Linked DNA regions of Homo sapiens. The protein of the gene in region 1 interacts with the protein of each later gene in a pairwise test. Each region holds a gene or a part of one and is shown on either strand. Other genes may lie near its edges.

What was found.
Region 2: the proteins of TFCP2 (region 1) and POLL interact in binary tests that used the Homo sapiens proteins (3 or more experiments, as listed by UniProt).
Region 3: the proteins of TFCP2 (region 1) and C19orf73 interact in binary tests that used the Homo sapiens proteins (3 or more experiments, as listed by UniProt).

The regions. Positions count from the first base shown.
Region 1 is NC_000012.12:51,163,124-51,170,153, forward strand, and holds part of TFCP2 (alpha-globin transcription factor CP2), read right to left. Parts: intron 1-7,030.
Region 2 is NC_000010.11:101,578,355-101,585,260, reverse strand, and holds the end of POLL (DNA polymerase lambda), read left to right. Parts: intron 1-341; coding exon 342-659; coding exon of another isoform or gene 660-825; exon of another isoform or gene 826-911; intron 912-1,579; coding exon 1,580-1,753; intron 1,754-2,369; coding exon 2,370-2,498; intron 2,499-4,844; coding exon 4,845-5,013; intron 5,014-5,422; coding exon of another isoform or gene 5,423-5,443; coding exon 5,444-5,808; 3' UTR 5,809-6,379; downstream 6,380-6,906.
Region 3 is NC_000019.10:49,117,875-49,123,461, forward strand, and holds C19orf73 (putative uncharacterized protein C19orf73), read right to left. Parts: upstream 1,270-5,587; 5' UTR 1,149-1,269; coding exon 759-1,148; 3' UTR 528-758; downstream 1-527. Other genes in the region: LIN7B (protein lin-7 homolog B), read left to right, coding at 1-144, 478-499.

The DNA.
Region 1 (7,030 bases):
ACCCTGTCTCTTCAAAAAATACAAAAATTAGCTAGGCATGGTGGCACGAGCCTATGGTCCCAGCTACTTGGGAGACTGAGGTGGGAGGATTGCCTGAATCTGGAAAGTGAAAGCTGTGATGGTGCCACTGCACCCCAGCCTGGGCAACAGAGCAAGACCCTGTCTTAAAAAATAATAGTAATAAGGCCGGGCGCGGTGGCTCACGCCTATAATCCCAGCACTTTGGGAGGCCAAGGCGGACAGATCACCTGAAGTTGGGAGTTCAAGACCAGCCTGACCAATGTGGCAAAACCCTGTCTCTACTAAAAATACAAAAATTAGCTGGGTGTGGTGGTGTATGTCTGTAATCCCAGCTACTTGGGAGGCTGAGGCAGGAGAATCGCTTGAACTTGGGAGGCAGAGGTTGCAGTGAGCCAAGATCACGCCACTGTACTCCAGCCCAGGCAACAGAGCGAGACTCTGTCTCAAAAAATAAATAAATAAATAATAATAACAATAATAAAATATTAGAAAGAAGGCAGGGTATGGTGGCTCATGCCTTTAATCCCAACACTTTGGGAAGCTGAGGTGGGAGAATCGCTTGAGCCCATGAGCTCAAGACAAGCCTGGGCACCATAGTGAAACCCCCATCTCTACAAAAAATAAAAATAAAAACAGAGATAAAAAAAAGAAAGACCTTAAGTCAATACTCTAACTTCAGACCTTAAGGAACTAGAAAAAGAAGCACAAACTGGACCCAACCAAAGGGAGGGAATAACAATGTTTAGAGCAGAGATAAGTGAAATAAAGAATAAAAATAAGGCAGGTGCAGTACCTCACACCTGTAATCCCAGCGCTTTGGGAGGCTGAGGCAGGAGGATCGCTTGAGGCCAGGAGTTCAAGGCCTGGGCAAGACAGTGAGACCCCATCTCTATGAAATTAAAAAAAAAATTAGCTGGGTTTGGTGATGCATGCCTGTAGTCTCAGTTACTCAGGAGGCTGAGGTAGGAGGATCACTTGAGCCCAGCAGTTTGAGGTTGCAGTGCATATGATCACACCACTGCATCATTCCAGCCTGGGTAACAGAGCACGGCCCCATTTCTCAAAAACAAACAAACAACAACAACCACAAAAACCAAGAAGAATAAAAATAGTAGAATCAACGAAACCAAAAATTTGTTATTTAAAAAGATCAACAGAATTTACAAACTCTTGGCCGGGTATGGTGGCTCACGCCTGTAATCCCAGCACTTTGGGAGGCCGAGGCGGGCAGATCACAAGGTCAGGAGTTCAAGACCAGCCTGGTCAACATGGTAAAACCCTGTCTCTACTAAAAATACAAAAATTAGCTGGGCACGGTGGCAGGCACCTGTAATCCCAGCTACTGGAGAGGCTGAGGCAGGAGAATTGCTTGAACCTGGGAGGTGGAGGTTGCAGTGAGCTGAGATCATGCCACTGCACTCCAGCCTGGGTGACACAGCAAGACTCCATCTCGAAAAAAAAAAAAAAAAAGTAATTAACAAACTCTTGTCAGACTGACTGGGAGAAAAAGAAAGAAGATGAAATGAAAATAAATAAAATCAGAAATGAAGCTGGGGATATTACTACTAATTTTATATAAATGAAAGGATTATAAGAGAATACTGTGAATGACTAAACCAGCATATTAGATAATTTAGATAAAAGAGACAAATTTTTAGAAACATTAAAGTACCAAAACTGACTCAGAAAAAATTAAAAGTCTCAACAAACCTATAATAAGAGATTGAATTGATAAACAAAAACCTCCCAACAAAGAAAAGTCCAGTATCACATGGCTGCATTGGCAAATTCTACCAAATATTCAAAGAATTAACACCAATCCTACTCGAACTCCTTCAAAAAACAGAAAAGAATGGAACACTTCCTAACGTTCTATGAGGCCAACATCACCCTGACACCAAAGCCAGAAAAAGATACGATAAAATTCAGGCTGGGCATGGTGGCTCACACCTGTAATCCTAGCACTTTGGGAGGCTGAGGCAGGAAGATCCCTTGAGTCCAGGAGTTCAAGACCAGCCTGGGCAACATAGGGAGACTTGGTCTCTTAAAAAAAAGACATGATAAGAAAACTATAAACCAATATCCCATATGAATATAGAAATAAAAATCCTCAAGAAAATAACAGCAAACTGCAAACTGGATCCAACAGTACATTAAAAAGATTATATACCATGACCAACATTTATCCCAGGAATGCAAGAGTGGTTCAACATAAGGAAATCAATCAATGTGATACACCACATTATCATCTCAACAGACACAGAAAAGATATTTGAAAAAATTCAATACCCTTTTAAGATTAAAAAAAAAAACACTCAGCAAAAGTTCAAAGACATTATGCTAAGTGAATAAGTCAGTCACAAAAGGACAAATATATGATCCCACGTATATGAGGTTTTTAGAGTAGTCAAATTCATAGACACAGAAAGTAGAATGGTGGTTGCCAGAGGCTGGAGTGGGGGGAGATGGGAAGTTAGTGTTTAATAGGTACAGCATTTCACTTTGGGATGAAAAAGTTCTGAAGACAGATCATGGTGACAGTTGTACAACAACGTAAATGTACTTAATTACACTGATCTGGACATTTTTAAAGGGTTAAAATGATAGAATTTTATGTTATGTGTATTTTACCACAATAAACACACACATACACACATATTCAGCAAACTAGGAATAGAAGGAAACTTATTTAACACTAAAACGGCATTTATGAAAAACTCTGAGTAGGGCATGGTGGCACATGCCTGTAGTCCCAGCTACTCAGGAGGCTGAGGCAGGACTGCTTGATCCCCGGGAGTTCGAAGCTGCAGTGAGCCATGAACATGCCACTGCACTCCAGCCTGGGCAACAGAGTGAGACCCCATCTCAAACAAACAAACAAAGAAGTTGGCCAGGCATGGTGGCTCACATCTGTAATCCCAGCACTTTGGGAGGCCAAGGCAGGTGGATCACCTGAGGTCAGGAGTTTGAGACCAGCCTGGCTAACATGGTGAAACCCCGTCTCTACTAAAAATACAAAAATTAGCTGGGTGTGGTGGTATGTGCCTGTAATCCCAGCTACTTGGGAGGCTGAGGCAGGAGAATCGCTTGAAGCTGGGAGGCAGTTGCAGTGAGCTGAGACCATGCCATTGCACTCCAGCCTGGGCAACAAGATCGAAAACTCCATCTCAAAAAATAATAATAATAATAAATAATAAATAAATAAAAGTTAACATCTGTGAACAGCCTGGGCAACATAGCATGACCCTGCCTCAAAAGAAAAAAAAAGGAAAGAAAAAAAAGATGACATCTCTGACTGTGGGTCACTATATTAACAGATGCTTAAAGTTGTTTTTCAGGAATTAGGGGACAGCTCTTACCCAGTTGAGACCACCAATCCCTCAACTGGACCTGCATGAGTGCCCAAAAAGTGACCTTTTCATGTCAGAGGGACAAAAACTCCACACTTAGATCATGTTAACACTGCCATTTTCTGCACATGGCCTATGAAGAGCAATGTAGCTCAATTACGCTTGTGCAGAAACCTTGATTACCTCACCTTTCCTACCTGCCAATCACCTTTCCCCATGCTTTAGACCACCCTGCGTCCTACCCCACAAATACTGCCAAGCCCTATTTTCAGGGTGCCAGATTTGGGATTTGCTCTCCTGTCTCCTCATTCAGCAGCCCTATGAATAAAATCTTGTCTCTTTTGCAAAACCCATCATCATAGTGATTGGCTTGCTGCACGTGGGCAGGACGAACCTAGTTTGATATCATAACCATCATCACAAACAATTTTAGAACATTTTTAACACCCTGAAAAGAAACTCCATTCCCACTAGTAGTCCCTCTCCATTCCCTCCTCCTCCATAGTTCTAGTCAACCACTAATTTATTTTCTCTACAGATCTGCCCATTCTAGAAATGTCATAGAAATGGAATCATATGTATGTGGTCTTTTGTGACTGGCTCCTTCACTTATCATGTATTCACAATGAATCTCCTTTTCCTTTTAGTATAAAGTTTGTGCCACAATAAAAATATAAGAAAAAAAGAATAATAAAAGGACCACTAATAAGGATTAAATAAATCTAATTAAGATGACTCTTTATAAAATACAAATTAATAGATTTGAAGATGAAACCATCATAAGATGCAACAGAAAATAAACTAGGGTAAAACAAATGTGTCAGAGAAGATATTTTATAAAACAAATTGCTTGTCAAAGAGAGTATTTTCCCTAATAAAGATGTAGAACGTCAGACTGATTGACATTTTTTTTTTTTGAGACAGTCTCGCTTTTGTCCCCTAGGCTGGAGTGCAGTGGCTCGATCTTGGCTCACTGCAACCTCCGCCTCCCAGGTTTAAGTCATTCTCTTGCCTCAGCCTCCCGAGTAGCTGAGATTACAGGTGTGCACCATCATGCCCAGCTAATTTTTGTATTTTCAGTAGAGACAGGGTTTTACCATGTTGGCCAGGCTGGTCTTGAACTCCTGACCTCAAGGTGATCTGCCTGCCTCAGCCTCCCAAAGTGCTGGGATTACAGGTGTGCACCACCATGCCTGGCCTGATTGACTCTTAGAACCAGTTGGCAAAGATTATTGCTGGAGGGTGGCACACTAAGATCCAAGGTCTTATTAAAAGGAGAAATAGGCCTGGGAACCGCGGCTGACATGTGTAATTACAGCAATTTGGGAGGCCAAGGTGGGAGGATCTCTTAAGGTCGGGAGTTAGAGATCAGCCTGAGCAACACAGCAAGATCTAGTCTCTACAAAAAGTAGAAAAACTGGCCAGGTGTGGTGGTGTGACCCTGTAGTCCTAGCCAGTCAGGAGGCTGCAGCAGGAAGATCACTTGAGCCCAGGAGTTTGAGGCTGCAATGAGCTACAATCACGCCACTGCACTCTAGCTTGGGTGACAAGAGTGAGATGTCGCCTCCAAAAACATAAATAATAAGACAAAATTAAAATTAAAAAAAAATAAAAATCAGGGCTGGGCACAGTGGCTCACACCTATAATCCCGGCACTTTGGGAGGCCAAGGGGGAAGAACTGTTTGAGCCCAGGAGTTCCAGAACAGCCTGGTCAACATAGGGAGACCCTGTCTCTGCAAAACATTTAAAAATCAGCCAGACATGGTATCTCATGACTGTACCCCCAGGTGCACTCCAGCCTAGGGGACAGCTACTTGGGAGGACTGCTTGAGCTCAGGAATTCGAGGCAGCAGTGAGCTGTGATTGAGCCACTACACTCCAGCCTTGGCGACAAAGCAAGACCTCAACTCTAATGAATAAATAATCAGATTTCTAGTCTGTGCCCCAATCACTGGAGATGGGACCCTGTAAACTGGTGTTTTGTTTTGGTTTGGTTTTTGTTTTTTTGAGACAGGGTCTCACCCTGTCACCCAAGCTGGAGTGCAGAGGCACAATCACAGCTCACTGCAGCCTTGACCTCCTGGGCTCAAACGATCCTCCCATCTCAGCCTCTGGAGTAGCTGGGACTAGGGGCAGGCACCACCATACTCAGCTAATTTTTTTATTTTTAGTAGAGAGAGGGTCTCCCTATGTTGCCCAGGCTGATGAAAACTCTTGAGCTCAAGCAGTCCTCCCACCTTGGCCTCCCAAAGTGCTGGGATTACAGGCACGAGCCACCATGCCTATCCCCAACTGTATTTTTATTTTTATTTCATTTTTTTTTTGAGATGCAGTCTGGCTCTGTTGCCCAGGCTGTAGTGCAGTGGCACAGTCTCAGCTCATTGCAACTTCCGCCTCCCGGGTTCATGCAAGTCTCCTGCCTCAGCCTCCCAAGTAGCTGGGATTACAGGCATGCACCACCACGCCCAACTAATTTTTGTATTGTTGGTAGAGACAGGGTTTCACCACGTTGGCCAGGCTGGTCTCAAACTCCTGACCTCAGGGGATCCACCCACCTCAGTCTCCCAAAGTGTTTGGATTACAGGCGTGAGCCACCACACCTGGTCCCCAAGTGTATTTTTAATAAGCTGTCCAGGTGACTCTTATGAATACTAAAATTTGAAGACCAATATCTAATTAACACAAATTAATAGAATAGATTAAATGTGTATAAGTCAAGAGAGCTGGGTGCAGTGGCTCACGCCTGTAATCCCCCAGCACTTTGGGAGGCTGAGACGGGTGGATCACCTGAGGTCAGGAGTTCAAGACCAGCCTGGCCAATATGGTGAAACCCCATCTCTACTAAAATTACAAAAATTAGCCGGGCATGATGGCGTGCGCCTGTAGTGCCAGCTACTCGGGAGGCTGAGGCAGGAGAATCGCTTGAACCCGGGAGACAGAGGTTGCAGTGAGCTAAGATCACACCACTGAATTCCAGCCTGGGCAACAGAGCGAGACTCCATCTCAAAAAGAAAAAAAAAAAGTCAAGAGAATAGTGACAAGTACCTAACACATGAAAAAAAGGATGAAAAAAACAAAAAAGCCAGGCGTAGTGTTATATGCCTATAGTCTCAGCTACTCGGAAGGCTGAAGTGAGAGGATCACTTGAGCCCGGGAGATGGAAGTTCTACTGAGCCGAGATGGTGCCACTGCACCCCAGCCTGAGTGACAGAACAGGACCCGTCTCAAAAAGAAAAGAAAAGAAGAAAGTACTTAAAATGTTGGCACACTATACTCTCAAGAACTCAAAGTGATGTTTGAAACTTGTGCATTTGATTTTGATGTTGAAAAAACTAAATGTGTAAATATGCAAGCCATTCTAATGTCTGTGAAAAACACAGAGTATGATTTGTAAAGAACTCTTAATTAAATGTAAGATGGCATAGTATCAAGAGCATATGGTATTGCACCTAGTAGATTAACAAATGTTTGCTGGTGATGTTAACTATTTTTATAATGAGTACAGTTATATTTAATTATTTCCAGCCTAACCTCTGGTAACCTAAACAAAATCAAACTTTTTGCTGTGAATATCTTTACACAAGTAACAGCATAAAAAATTGTCAAATATTATGTCAGACGCTCATGTGTAAGTTCAGGGTCAGGGCACTTACTTTCA
Region 2 (6,906 bases), on another chromosome or scaffold:
ATGGGGTGGGCCTGGTGGCTGTTCAGAAAGTCCCAGGCCCCTGAGAGAGGAGGGCTCTATTGTGAAGCCATTTAGCTCTTCCCAACACTCATCACTGCTGCATTTATCTAGGCCATATCTAACACATACCACTGGGGATCCTAGGGCTAGGCACTGCGTGGAGCCAAAGGGAACGTGGCCTCACACCCAAGGAGATCCAAGTCTGATGCAGAAGGCCCCGCCTCATTCTTAGGTCTGACTAGAAGACCCTCCCCCCGCACAAAGAAGATGACCCCCACCTTTAAGGATCCCTTCTCTTGGAGAACAAGAATTTATTGTTTTCTTTTCTTCTCTATCCCAAGCCCATCTCTGATGATGAAGCCAGTGATGGGGAAGAAACCCAGGTTAGTGCAGCTGATCTGGAAGCCCTCATCAGTGGCCACTACCCCACCTCCCTTGAGGGAGATTGTGAGCCTAGCCCAGCCCCTGCTGTCCTGGATAAGTGGGTCTGTGCACAGCCCTCAAGCCAGAAGGCGACCAATCACAACCTCCATATCACAGAGAAGCTGGAAGTTCTGGCCAAAGCCTACAGTGTTCAGGGAGACAAGTGGAGGGCCCTGGGCTATGCCAAGGCCATCAATGCCCTCAAGAGCTTCCATAAGCCTGTCACCTCGTACCAGGTACCCAGGGGCTAGAGTGGGAGGAGGGGTCTTTACTGGCCAGTGGTTAGTAACCCCAGTGGGGTTCAGGTACAGTGGTGAAGATTTTATGGGGTCTAGGACTTGCACAAAAGAAAAAAAAGGAAAATTGATGAAAGCAGATTGGCAAAATCTTGATAGTTGTTGAAGCTGGGAGATGTACGATACTTGGGGGTTATATGGATCTCTCTACTTTTGAATTTTTTAACATAATTAAAAGTTTTTTATTTTTAATTTTGTTTATTTATTTATTTATTCATTTATTTAGCAGAGATGGTGTTTTGCCGTGTTACCCAGGCTGGTCTTGAACTCCTGGGCTCAAGCAATCTACCCTCGGCTCAGCCCTGCAAAGTGCTGGGATTACAGCCATGAGCCCTTGTGTCCCGCCTAAAAAGTTGTTTAAAAGAAGTTTGGACTCTGAAGCCTAACAGACCAGGGTTTGAACTCTGGTTCCTGTCATTCACTAACTGTGTGACTCCAGACAAGTTACTTAAACTCTCAAAGCATCAGTTTTCTCATTAGTAAAAAGGGGCTACTATTAAATGAAATGGTCCCTGTAGCACAGGACCTGACATAGAGTAAGCCCTCAGTAAATGTTAGCTCTTGCTGTTGGAATGATGATGATGGTGGTGGTGGTGGTGGTGACTAATATCATCATTATTTTCTACTTCTTACTGCTGGTCTCCATCCTTCTGGGAACCAAAAGACAAATTACCCAGCCCTCATTCTATCCAAAATTCTCATCTTCAACTACACCCAAGCTTTACACAGCCACACAGTTGCCAAGCAGCCAGGCTGGCTTTTATGTCAGCATCTGCTAGAGGAGTCAGCTTCCTTTCCACTGGCTCTACCTCTTCCATCTCCTCACTCTTCTTTCTTGCCTCTGCCTCCTCCTCCTCTAGGAGGCCTGCAGTATCCCTGGGATTGGGAAGCGGATGGCTGAGAAAATCATAGAGATCCTGGAGAGCGGGCATTTGCGGAAGCTGGACCATATCAGTGAGAGCGTGCCTGTCTTGGAGCTCTTCTCCAACATCTGGGGAGCTGGGACCAAGACTGCCCAGATGTGGTACCAACAGGTCACACCCTGGCTCAGCCCCTACTTCAGTTTTGCTGTGTCTCAGAGTTCCTGCCCCAGATGTGTGCTGTGCTCTGCCCCAGATCCCTATGCTGTGCTCTGATGGGAATGCACCCACAGTATAGGGAGACCATTTTTCAAGCGGACCAGGACTCATATAGACCCCTCAGCTCCCAGAACAGCCTTGTTGCTTGGTATCCTTAAGAAGGAGTAGACAGGGACAAGAAGTATGTTTCTCAGTCTCCCCAGACCAGCAAGGGCCTTCCTGAGGAGGCCAGGCCTTGACACTGCGTGTCTAGAGCAGTGGTTCCCAATCCTGGCTCTGCCCACAATCACCAGGGCAGCTTGGTAAGGATGAAGATGACAAGGTCCATCCTCAGACTGATGGAATCATGAACGAGCATCTTAGGATAGTGGCAGGGCTGGATGATGGCATGTTTCCCATGCTCCCTGCCTTTCCCAAGTCCTGCTGAGTACAGACCCAACTGCCCCTAGGTTGGTCCTGCCTCTAGCCTTCCCTAGAGTCTGGGGCGATGGAAGCCTTGTGTGTGTGCTCACTCATGCCTCTTCATTGGTCCTGGATCCTTACAGCTTCCCATCTGGCTGCTTTTTTCCAGGGCTTCCGAAGTCTGGAAGACATCCGCAGCCAGGCCTCCCTGACAACCCAGCAGGCCATCGGCCTGAAGCATTACAGTGACTTCCTGGAACGTATGCCCAGGGAGGAGGCTACAGAGATTGAGCAGACAGTAAGCAGGTGTCCCAGAGCAGTGAGGACAGCCAGGTCCTGCTGTAAGGTCTTGGGTCAAAGCCAAGAACCCCCAACTCCTCAGCTGGGGAGGACAGCAGGCAGAGGAAACTGTGGATCACCAGAGGTTGAGCACAGAGCAAGTTAAGACTGAAGCTCCAGGCCCAGAGGTGGGGGTGGGGAGCTTTGGGAGGAAAGAGCTGTAACACCAGCCCTCTAGATTCTGGTTCTCAGTAGTCAGGCCTATTAGGATTGGATTCAATTCTAGACTGATTGGTGTTAGGATTGGGTTAATGTTAGGGTTAGATTACAGGTGAATTATATCTGTACTGAGGTTAGGGTGGGTCAGGGCAGAGGGTTTTAATATTTTATTTTATCTTTTTTTTTTATTTCACCAACTTCTTTGAGAACCTGATGAAAACTGTGGACTGTTTTCTCCCCAAAATGCACAAATGTGCAAAGGTTTATGTCTTTTTCCAGATGTATGGACCTTCTAAAGCCCACGCAAGGCTGGCTCAGGATTTGGGGTAGAGTTGGTGTAAAAGCACAGTGTCAGTAGGATTTGGTTTGGGGCTGGAAGAAAGCTCCATCAAGATGGAGTTAAGACCAGGCACAGTGGCTTATGCCTTTAATCCCAGCACATTGGGAGAACAGGGTGGACAGATCATCTGAGCTCAGGAGCTCGAGACCAGCCTGGCCAACGTGGTGAAACCCTGTCTCTATAAAACATACAAAAATTTCCAGCCTGGCAAACATGGCGAAACCCCGTCTCTACTAAAAATACAAAAAAGTTAGGCGGGTGCCGTGGCTCATGCCTATAATCCCAGTTTCTTGGGAGGCTGAGGTGGGAGATTTGCTTGAACCTGGGAGGCGGAGGTTGCAGCGAGCCAAGATTGTGCCACTGCACTCTAGCCTGGGCAACAGAGCAAGACTCTGTCTGAAAAAAAAAAAAAGATTGAGTTAAAGTTAGGCTTTAATTAGGCGTAGGATTTTCTTAATGTTGGTTGCTTTTAAGTTAAGATTTGTAGTTGTCCAAGAAATAAGATTTGGGTTTGGTTTAGAGTTGGGTTAGCGATTAGGTTCATGTAAAAGCTAGATTAGAGAGACACTGGACTGCATTTAGGGCTAGATGTATCATTTGTTCAATGGGCATTAGGATTAGGAGCTGCTTGTAATAGGCAAGTTTTGCTCACTTTGGTCAGGGATTCTGATAGAGTGGGATCCCATGGAGACTGGCCTAGTTTGATTGAAATCAGCCCCCAGCTCCATTCCAGGCCACAAGGCTATGAGGCCGGTATGAGATGGATGGACAGGCCTCTTTGTCTGCCCATCACCAGGCCTTGGTGCTAGTGATGACACCGTCACTCAGCCATGGTGTCCGGGCATGGAGAATGCCTCAGTCAGTACCCAGCCCATTGGAACAAAAGAGGCTTCCCACCTGGCCTCCTGTGCCCCCATTTAAGGGCTCCAGCCATAGGAGTTTTGATGGGATTACTCACGTGGACCTCCTCCTTCCATTCTCTTGGGAGGCTCAAGAAGGGAGTAAGGGGATTAGCGGAGCCCTCCTGTCAGGATACTTGAGGTGTCCGGGGCCCCAGAATTTTCAGTGTCCTGGGGTGGAGGCAGGAGGCCATCTGCATATGAAAGAACCTCAGTGTCTCAGGGGTGGAGGCTAATGGGTTTATTTTTCCTCAGAGGGACAATCCTTCAGCTGGCAGTTGCTGTCTCAGCTCCCTCCCCACCAAGAAAGGATGTGGGTGTTGGCTCAGAACTGCCCCCTCTTTGCTTTCTTTCCTCTCCTTTCCCACAGGTGCAGCTGTATTTCTGTGCTCCACTTTCTCCTGGGCCTGGGCCTGGCGCATGCTGCCAGCCACCTGCTCAGTCCTCAAACCCCAGCTCACATATTCCAAACCTTTAGCTCCAAATCAGTAGATATCTGGGGCTGCCTAGACCTGGCTGAGGGCTTTCAGCACCTGGCCCCTTGTCCTAAGTGGAGTTTCACAGACCTGGGCACGTGGGCTGGGGCAGGGGCAGAGAGAGTCTGTGTCTCCCTACTCTTAAAGAGCTCCACAGGGCAAGCTCAGTGCCCACTCTCAGAAGCAGAGCCGGCACCTTCTCCCGTCTCTCCTCAGGCTTGCCTCCTGCACAGTGAGCTTTTTCTTCTCTCCTGTCCTAGCGAAGGGAAAGAACAGCAGCTCCTCAGGGTGGATTCCCCTGGGCTTGCAGCAGGCATCTGGAATGGGCATAAGCTGAGGGTGTGGGCCCGAGTCTGGGAAGGCCCTTGTACTGCTGTGGGAGAGGAGCTCCCCACGCACAGCCCCTCACCTGTCACCGCTCTCTTTCCCAGGTCCAGAAAGCAGCCCAGGCCTTTAACTCTGGGCTGCTGTGTGTGGCATGTGGTTCATACCGACGGGGAAAGGCGACCTGTGGTGATGTCGACGTGCTCATCACTCACCCAGATGGCCGGTCCCACCGGGGTATCTTCAGCCGCCTCCTTGACAGTCTTCGGCAGGAAGGTATAAGCTCCATCTCTGGGTGAGCAGGTTGACAGAGGGCAGCACAGGTCTGGGGGCCCCCTCAGAGGGAGAACCTCAGAAGTTCCAGTCCTGAGGCAGGAAGCAGGGGAACAGTGCTTTGCCAGCATCCCATCTCTCTATCGGGGCCGGAATCCTCTCCAGGGAGAGATGGAACAGCCCCGCCACACCTATGTGGAGGTGCTCAGTGAACCCTGCAGGCCAAGTATCTCATCTGATCTTTCTGTGACACTATGGGGGAGATGGGAATTACTATCCATGTTTTACAGAAAAGGAGAAGGGCCCAGAGAGGGTAGTGTCACCCAGCTAATACCTGGGCAAGCCCCAGCTTAGACATCAGGAGAGACCTGGGAGGATGGGACAGCCCAGGCCTGGTTCCCTGCCCTCCCAGCAGTCCCCTCTGTTGGGCCAGGGTTCCTCACAGATGACTTGGTGAGCCAAGAGGAGAATGGTCAGCAACAGAAGTACTTGGGGGTGTGCCGGCTCCCAGGGCCAGGGCGGCGGCACCGGCGCCTGGACATCATCGTGGTGCCCTATAGCGAGTTTGCCTGTGCCCTGCTCTACTTCACCGGCTCTGCACACTTCAACCGCTCCATGCGAGCCCTGGCCAAAACCAAGGGCATGAGTCTGTCAGAACATGCCCTCAGCACTGCTGTGGTCCGGAACACCCATGGCTGCAAGGTGGGGCCTGGCCGAGTGCTGCCCACTCCCACTGAGAAGGATGTCTTCAGGCTCTTAGGCCTCCCCTACCGAGAACCTGCTGAGCGGGACTGGTGACCCATGGCTGGGGGTGCTGAGGAGAGCCGAGTTGGACTGGCTACCCCTCCTGGCCACCCAGTACTCCCTCCAGCCTCAGCTGGCTGAACCTCGCCGCTCCAACCACCAGCTTCCTCAGCGAGCAGGGCCCAGGGCTCTGGGCCTGAAGCAAGAGCCAGCCCGGCTCCCAGTGTCTGCCCGGCTCCCAGTGTCTGCCCAGCCCTCTCCCAGACAGGAGCAGGCTGCCACCCCTTCTACCTCACCACTGCCCCTCGAAGAATTTTGCAAATGGCCCCTTGCCCCATTTTAAGCAGGAGCAGGTGGCTGGTTTGAAGCCCCAGGTATCCCCCTTCCCTGCTATGGGAAAGGCCAAGCTGCTGGGTGGGGACAGAAGCTGCAGGGGAGAGGGAAGCAGCCGTGCTGTCAACATCATCCGGCACCCTCTGGGGTAGGAGAACAGCCATTCCACATGTGTTCCCTCTATCCGTCCTGCTTCCTGGGCAGCTGGTGGTGCTGGGAATGGGGTGCCCCAGCCTTGGTGAGGACAGTGTTGGGAGGCCCAGGGGCCCAGTAAAGTGCATTTGACATTGAACCTGCCTGGTGTCTGAGCTGCTGCAGCCTCTGGCTACCTTGTTCCACCCAGGCAGGGACGACAGAGATGGGAACTGAAAAGAGGAGCCCAGAAAGGCTGTGTTAACTGCCCTCCAGACAGGACTGGCCTGAGTCAGCTCCTAAACTCACAGCAAGGACAGCAGTGGCTGTGACCAGGGAGAATGTTGGAGCCAGGCACCCAGAGCTCCTATCTAGTCATCAGCATCTTCTGCAGGCCCTACCTTAGACCAGGCTATCAGGGGACATGAGCAAAAGTGACAAGACTCAGGAAACCATTAGGAACAACTAAATGGTGACCGTGTACACAGGGATGGGCGGCCAGGGAAGGCTTCCCGGAGGAGGAGAGAGGCAGACTGGCAGGGAAATTGCCTCTGAGAGGAGTCAGCAGGCTCTGTTTGGGGACAATTAAGGAACAGCTTTAGAGAGGACACTGTGTGCTGGGAGTCAGGAGCAGGCTGGGCTGGCAGAGGACTGGAAGCAGAGCTTGGTTTGATAGAGCAGACAGGA
Region 3 (5,587 bases), on another chromosome or scaffold:
TGAGAAGGCGGTGGAGCTGCTGAAGGCGGCCCAGGGCTCGGTGAAGCTGGTTGTCCGTTACACACCGCGAGTGCTGGAGGAGATGGAGGCCCGGTTCGAGAAGATGCGCTCTGCCCGCCGGCGCCAACAGCATCAGAGCTACTCGTGAGCCCCTGGGTCACCACACCCCTGGGGCCTCCACGGGCTCCCTTTAACCCCAGGCTCCCAAACCAGGCCAGTGCTTCCTGGATCTTCCAGCCCTGGCCCCTCCTCTGGGATCCTGACCCTTGACCCTTGGCCCAGGCTCTCACCCCAGGCTAGTTTGGCCAAATCCCCTGGGGAGCCCTTAGCTTCCTTCCATCCCAAGATACGGAACCTACTGTGGCTGGGATCCCTCAGCCCACTTACCTGGGCCCTTGCCTCTGCAACCCCAGTCCTGCCCCTCTTGTCTACCCGGAGCCTCCCTGATCCCGGGTCCCTTGTCCACCCCCCTTGCAGGTCCTTGGAGTCTCGAGGTTGAAACCACAGATCTGGACGTTCACGTGCACTCTCTTCCTGTACAGTATTTATTGTTCCTGGCACTTTATTTAAAGATATTTGACCCTCACTGAGTGTCTGTGTGTCTGTCCTGCATCCCTGGGTTGGTGTCTTGAGATGTGGAGGGAATGCGAGGAGCTGAGGTCAGGCCAAGCCGTTGAGAAGCCTTTTCCAGAGTCTGAGAACAGAGGTTAAGACCTCTCCCTAGGTCTGAAGGCGGAGACAGGCCGGCTTCCAAGAGACTAGTCCGAGGGCGGAGGGCGGAGGCAGGGACCCAGTCTGGGTCTGAGTGCTGGGGCAGAACTGAGGACAACGCTGCCTACCCTTAAGAGCGTCTGAGGGCGAAGGCCAAGTCCCTTCCTCCAGAGTCCTGAAACGCAGCCGGAGCCAGTGGGCGGCCTCTGTGTGGGCGGGGCGGAGCGAACCATTAGCCTCGTCCGCCGGGGGAACCCTGCAGGCCGCACTACTGTCTGCGTGGGAGTCGCGGGTGGGGGTGCCGCGTGCAGTTCCCGAGGCGGGCGCAGGGGTGCAGAATGAGGTGCCCTCGCCCACCGGGCGCTCACTCCACCTTCCAAACACAGCGCGTCTTTCCGGAAGCAGCCCCCGCCTTGAAATCCAACCTTTAGCCTCATCCCGCTGCCCGCCCAGCCCTCGTGTCCCGTGCGGCGCGAGGGCTAGTGCGCGCCACTGCCGGGAGCCGGGGTCGCGACTCGCGTTCCACGCCGCGCGCTACTCGCTCCAGGTGACATCATCCCCCTGCCGGGCTCCGCCTCCCGCCCCAGCCGCCTCACGCCGCGTGCCTATTGGTCGACGCGCCTTATGCCCCGCCTCTCGCTCTCCGCCCGCGCGACCCCTCCCGGCCGGTGTGGAGGCGGGGTCTAGTCGCCGGCCGGCGCCGACGCTCTCTCCCATTGGCCGCTCTTCGCCGTCTGTCAGTCTCCTGTTAAAGGGGCCACGACCGCCCGGGAGCCGTGGGGGGGGAGGGGGAGGGAGGAGGAATTTTTTTGGGGGGAAGGTGGGATTTGGGGGGCGCTGGTGGGCACCCCTGGATCTGGCGGCTGCGGCCTCGCGGGGGGAGGCTGATCGGTGACAGGGGCAGGGGGCTATTTTGGGGGTAGAAGGCAGTGAGAGCGTGAGGGGGAGGGGGGTCCCCAGCGCCCAAGCCGGAGCCAGAGACGCGGAGCCCGCGCGAGCGTCGGAGACAGGGCTCCAGGGCTCCGAAGCGACAGAGCCGGGCCCCGGCCGCTGCCAGGGGCCCCGCCCGGCCCCCCCACTCCACCCCACGTCCCTCCTGCAGCCCAGCTCCGCCCGCAGCCGCCGCGGACCAGGCAGGTAAGAGCCCGGCCCGGCCCTCCTGGCAGCGCCCACCCTGGGGACCCCTTGGCGAGCCTCCCCCGCCTCCCCGAGATCCCGGATTCCCTTCCTCATCCCAGGGGACCCCCGAGCCCAGATTTCACACCCCAACCCCGGGGACTCAGGCGTGCCCCTCCCGGCGCCCAGAGTCCCCGACCGAACCCTAGAATCCCGGGCGCACCGCCGCCTCGCGCCTCCTCCAGGGCCCAGGAGCTTGGATTTCCCGGTCCGGCCCCGGGACCCCTCCTAGAGCCTAGATCCCCCTTCCTGACCCTGTCCTGGGAGCTCCAGACACCCGCCGCGGCGGTGCCAGACTCCCCAGACGCGTCCGCATCGTCCCCGCTTCGCGCACTCCGTCTCCCGTCGCCAGCCTCGGGCTTGCACAGCCGGCTGCGTCCCACGGTCCAGGCAGGCTCGGCGGCCGCCCTGGACACAGGCCCGCTCTGGAGCTGTCCATGGTCAGCGCGCTCGGCAGCCTCGCCTCCCCCCACCTCCTGCCGCCGCCACCAGGGAGGGGGCGCAGGCGGCGCGGGGATCCCCCCGCCGCGCCTTTGACCCGGGAATACCCGGGCCCTCCCCGACCAGGGCGCCCCAGCCTCTGGGTTCTGCCGGCCAGGCTCGTGGCCCCGTCCTCGGCACCCCAGGTTCCTGGGACTCCAGCTGCTCCCTGAGGATCCAGGGCTTCTGAATTTTCCTATTCTGGTCGCCGTGGGGACCATGGCACCCGGGGATGCAGCTCCCACCCCGTTCGGGAAGCCTGTCCGTGTCTACACCTCTGCTGGCCCCAGGTGGTAGCCCTCACCCCGTCAGCACCTAGGAATCCTGTTCCCCAGCGTTTGCTCTGCTTAGAACCCCGCTGTGCCCTGCAGACACACAGACTTAGCCTCCTGGCACCCAGCATCTGCTCCCCGAGGGACTCAGGCGCCATGACTCCTTTCCTTTGGGGGACCCGGAATGTGATTCTCAATGCAGTTCTCTGACTTCTGTTCACACTCCCACTTGGGGACCTAAATGTCTTGGTCCCAGTCTCCTATCCCCTCAGGGACCCAGGAGTTCAGACCCCAGCTTCCGTACTGCCCACCAGCTTTTACTGAGGCTGTCTGCCTCAACCCTCTCTCCAAACAAGACCTCAGGCTCTCACCTTCCAATCCCCCATCATTTACCTCCACAAGGATTCAGGAGTCCAGGCTCCCAGCTCTGTCCACTGCCCTCCCCAGCAGGTATCTAGTTTCTCAGGTCTCACTTTTAGGAACCAGGTCTTCACAGCCTCATCACTCTGCCCCATCAACTTCACATCTCCTGTGGCCCTACCAAACCCCTGTCTCATCCTCATGTCACCCCAGGTGGCGGGCTTCAGGACTCTCTACTCTTTCCCCTAAGATGCAGCTTGTTGAGATGTTTCTAGCACTCCATTGCCCCCTGAGGCTCAGATGAGTTCCCCTTCTCCAAGTACACTCTCCCAGGCCAATGAGCCGAACACACATCACCTCCTCCAGATGTATTCTGTGGCCTGGGCTCATAAGGAGATCTAGAAGCTACCTGCTGCCATACAAATTTCTTTCTTTCTATTTATTTATTTATTTATTTTGAGACAAGGTCTCTGTTGCCCAGGCTGGAGTGCACTGGCACAATCACAGCTCACTGCAGCCTCCACCTCCTAGGCTCAGGTCATCTTCCCACCTTAGCCGCCTGAGTAGCTGGGACCACAAGCACTCACCACCAGGCCTGGCTAATTAAAAAAAAATTTTTTTGGCCAGGCGCGGTGGCTCATGCCGGTAATCCCAGCACTTTGGGAGGCTGAAGCGGGCGGATCACCTGAGGTCAGGATTTTGAGACCAGCCTGGCCAACATGGAGAAACCCTGTCTCTACTAAAAATACAAAATTAGCCAGGCGTGGTGGCACATGCCTGTAATCCCAGCTACTCAGGAGGCTGAGGCAGGAGAGTCGTTTGAACCCCGGAGGCGGAGGTTGCATTGAGCTGAGATCGTGCCACTGCACTCCAGCCTGAACGACAAGAGCGAAACTCTGTCTCAAAAAAAAATTTTATTTATTTATTTATTTATTTATTTTTTGTAGAGATGGGGGTTTCGCCATGTTGCCCAGACTGGTCTGAAACTCCTAGGCTCAAGGGATCCTTCTCTGTTGGCTCCCAAAAGTGCTGGGATTACAGGCATGGCCATCGCGCCTGGCCGGGCCACATTTCTTGTCGCACATGTGCTCTTGCATTGCTCCATGTTCTAGATTCCTTCTAAACACCAGAACACTCCCAGCTGATGTCTGTTCTGTGTTCCATTTTCATTCCAGGCATGGTCTGAGTTCTAGGCCAGATGCCAATTTTTTTTTTTTTTTTTTTGAGACGGAGTTTCACTCTTGTTGCTCAGGCTGGAGTGCAATGCTGCGATCTTGGCTCACCACAACCTCTGCCTCCCGCGTTCAAGCGATTCTCCTGCCTCAGCCTCCTGAGTAGCTGGGATTACAGGCGCCTACCACCATGCCCGGCTAATTTTTTGTATTTTTAGTAGAGATGGGGGTTTCTCCATGTTGGTCAGACTAGTCTCGAGTTCCCGACCTCAGGTGATCACCTGCCTCGGCCTCCCAAAGTGCTGGGATTATAGGCGTGAGCCACTGTGCACAGCCTTTGTTTTTTTCATATATTTAGATAAGACCCCTGAGCCAGATTCTGATCCCACCATATCCTCAGACATGTTCCAAAGTTCTAACAACAAGTCCTTCCTTCTTTGCTAAATGTTCATTTCAAGTGTGTTCCAGGTTTCAGCCACGTTGTTCTAGATTCCATTCTCTTCCCAGGAGCAATCTAACTTCTAAGATGTGTGTGTTCCAAGTATGTGCTCTAGGCTTCCTAATTCGTGCCATTGATTCTAGAATGCCCTTCCCTGTTTCCCTGTTTTAGGTTCTAAGGAAGTTCTATCTAATTGCACATTCTTTTTTGTTGTTGTTGTTGTTTAGTTGTTTTTTTTTTTTTTTTTTTTGGCGGGGGATGGAGTCTCACTCTGTCTCCCAGGCTGGAGTGCAGTGGCGCAATCTCAGCTCACTGCAAGCTCCGCCTTCTGGGTTCACACCATTTTCCTGCCTCAGCCTCCCAAGTAGCTGGGACAACAGGCGCCCACCACCACGCCCGGCTAATATTTTGTATTTTTGGTAGAGACGGGGTATCACCGTGTTAGCCAGGATGGTCTCTATCTGTTAACCTCGTGATCCACCTGCCTCTGCCTCCCAAAGTGTTGGGATTACAGGCAGGAGCCACCACGCCCGGCCTGTTGTTTAGTTTTTATTTTATTTTTGAGACGGAGTCTCACTCTGTCACCCAGGCTGGAGTGCAGTGGTATGATCTCAGCTCACTGCAACCTCTGCCTCCCGGGTTCAAACAATTCTCCTGCCTCAGCCTCCCAAATAGCTGGGACTACAGGCACATGCCACCACGCCTGGCTAATTTTTTTTGTATTTTTAATAGAGACAGGGTTTTGCCATGTTGGCCAGGCTGGTCTCGAACTCCTGACCTCAAGTGATCCCCCTCCTGCCTCCCAAAGTGCTGGGATTACAGGTGTGAGCCACCACGCCCGGCCTGTTATCGTTGTTTAGACATTGGATCTCATTATGTTACTGAGGCGATCCTCTCACCTTGGCCTTCCAAAGTGCTGGAATTACAAGCATGAGCCACTGTGCCTGGCCCTAATTTCACATTCTTTTTTTTTTGAG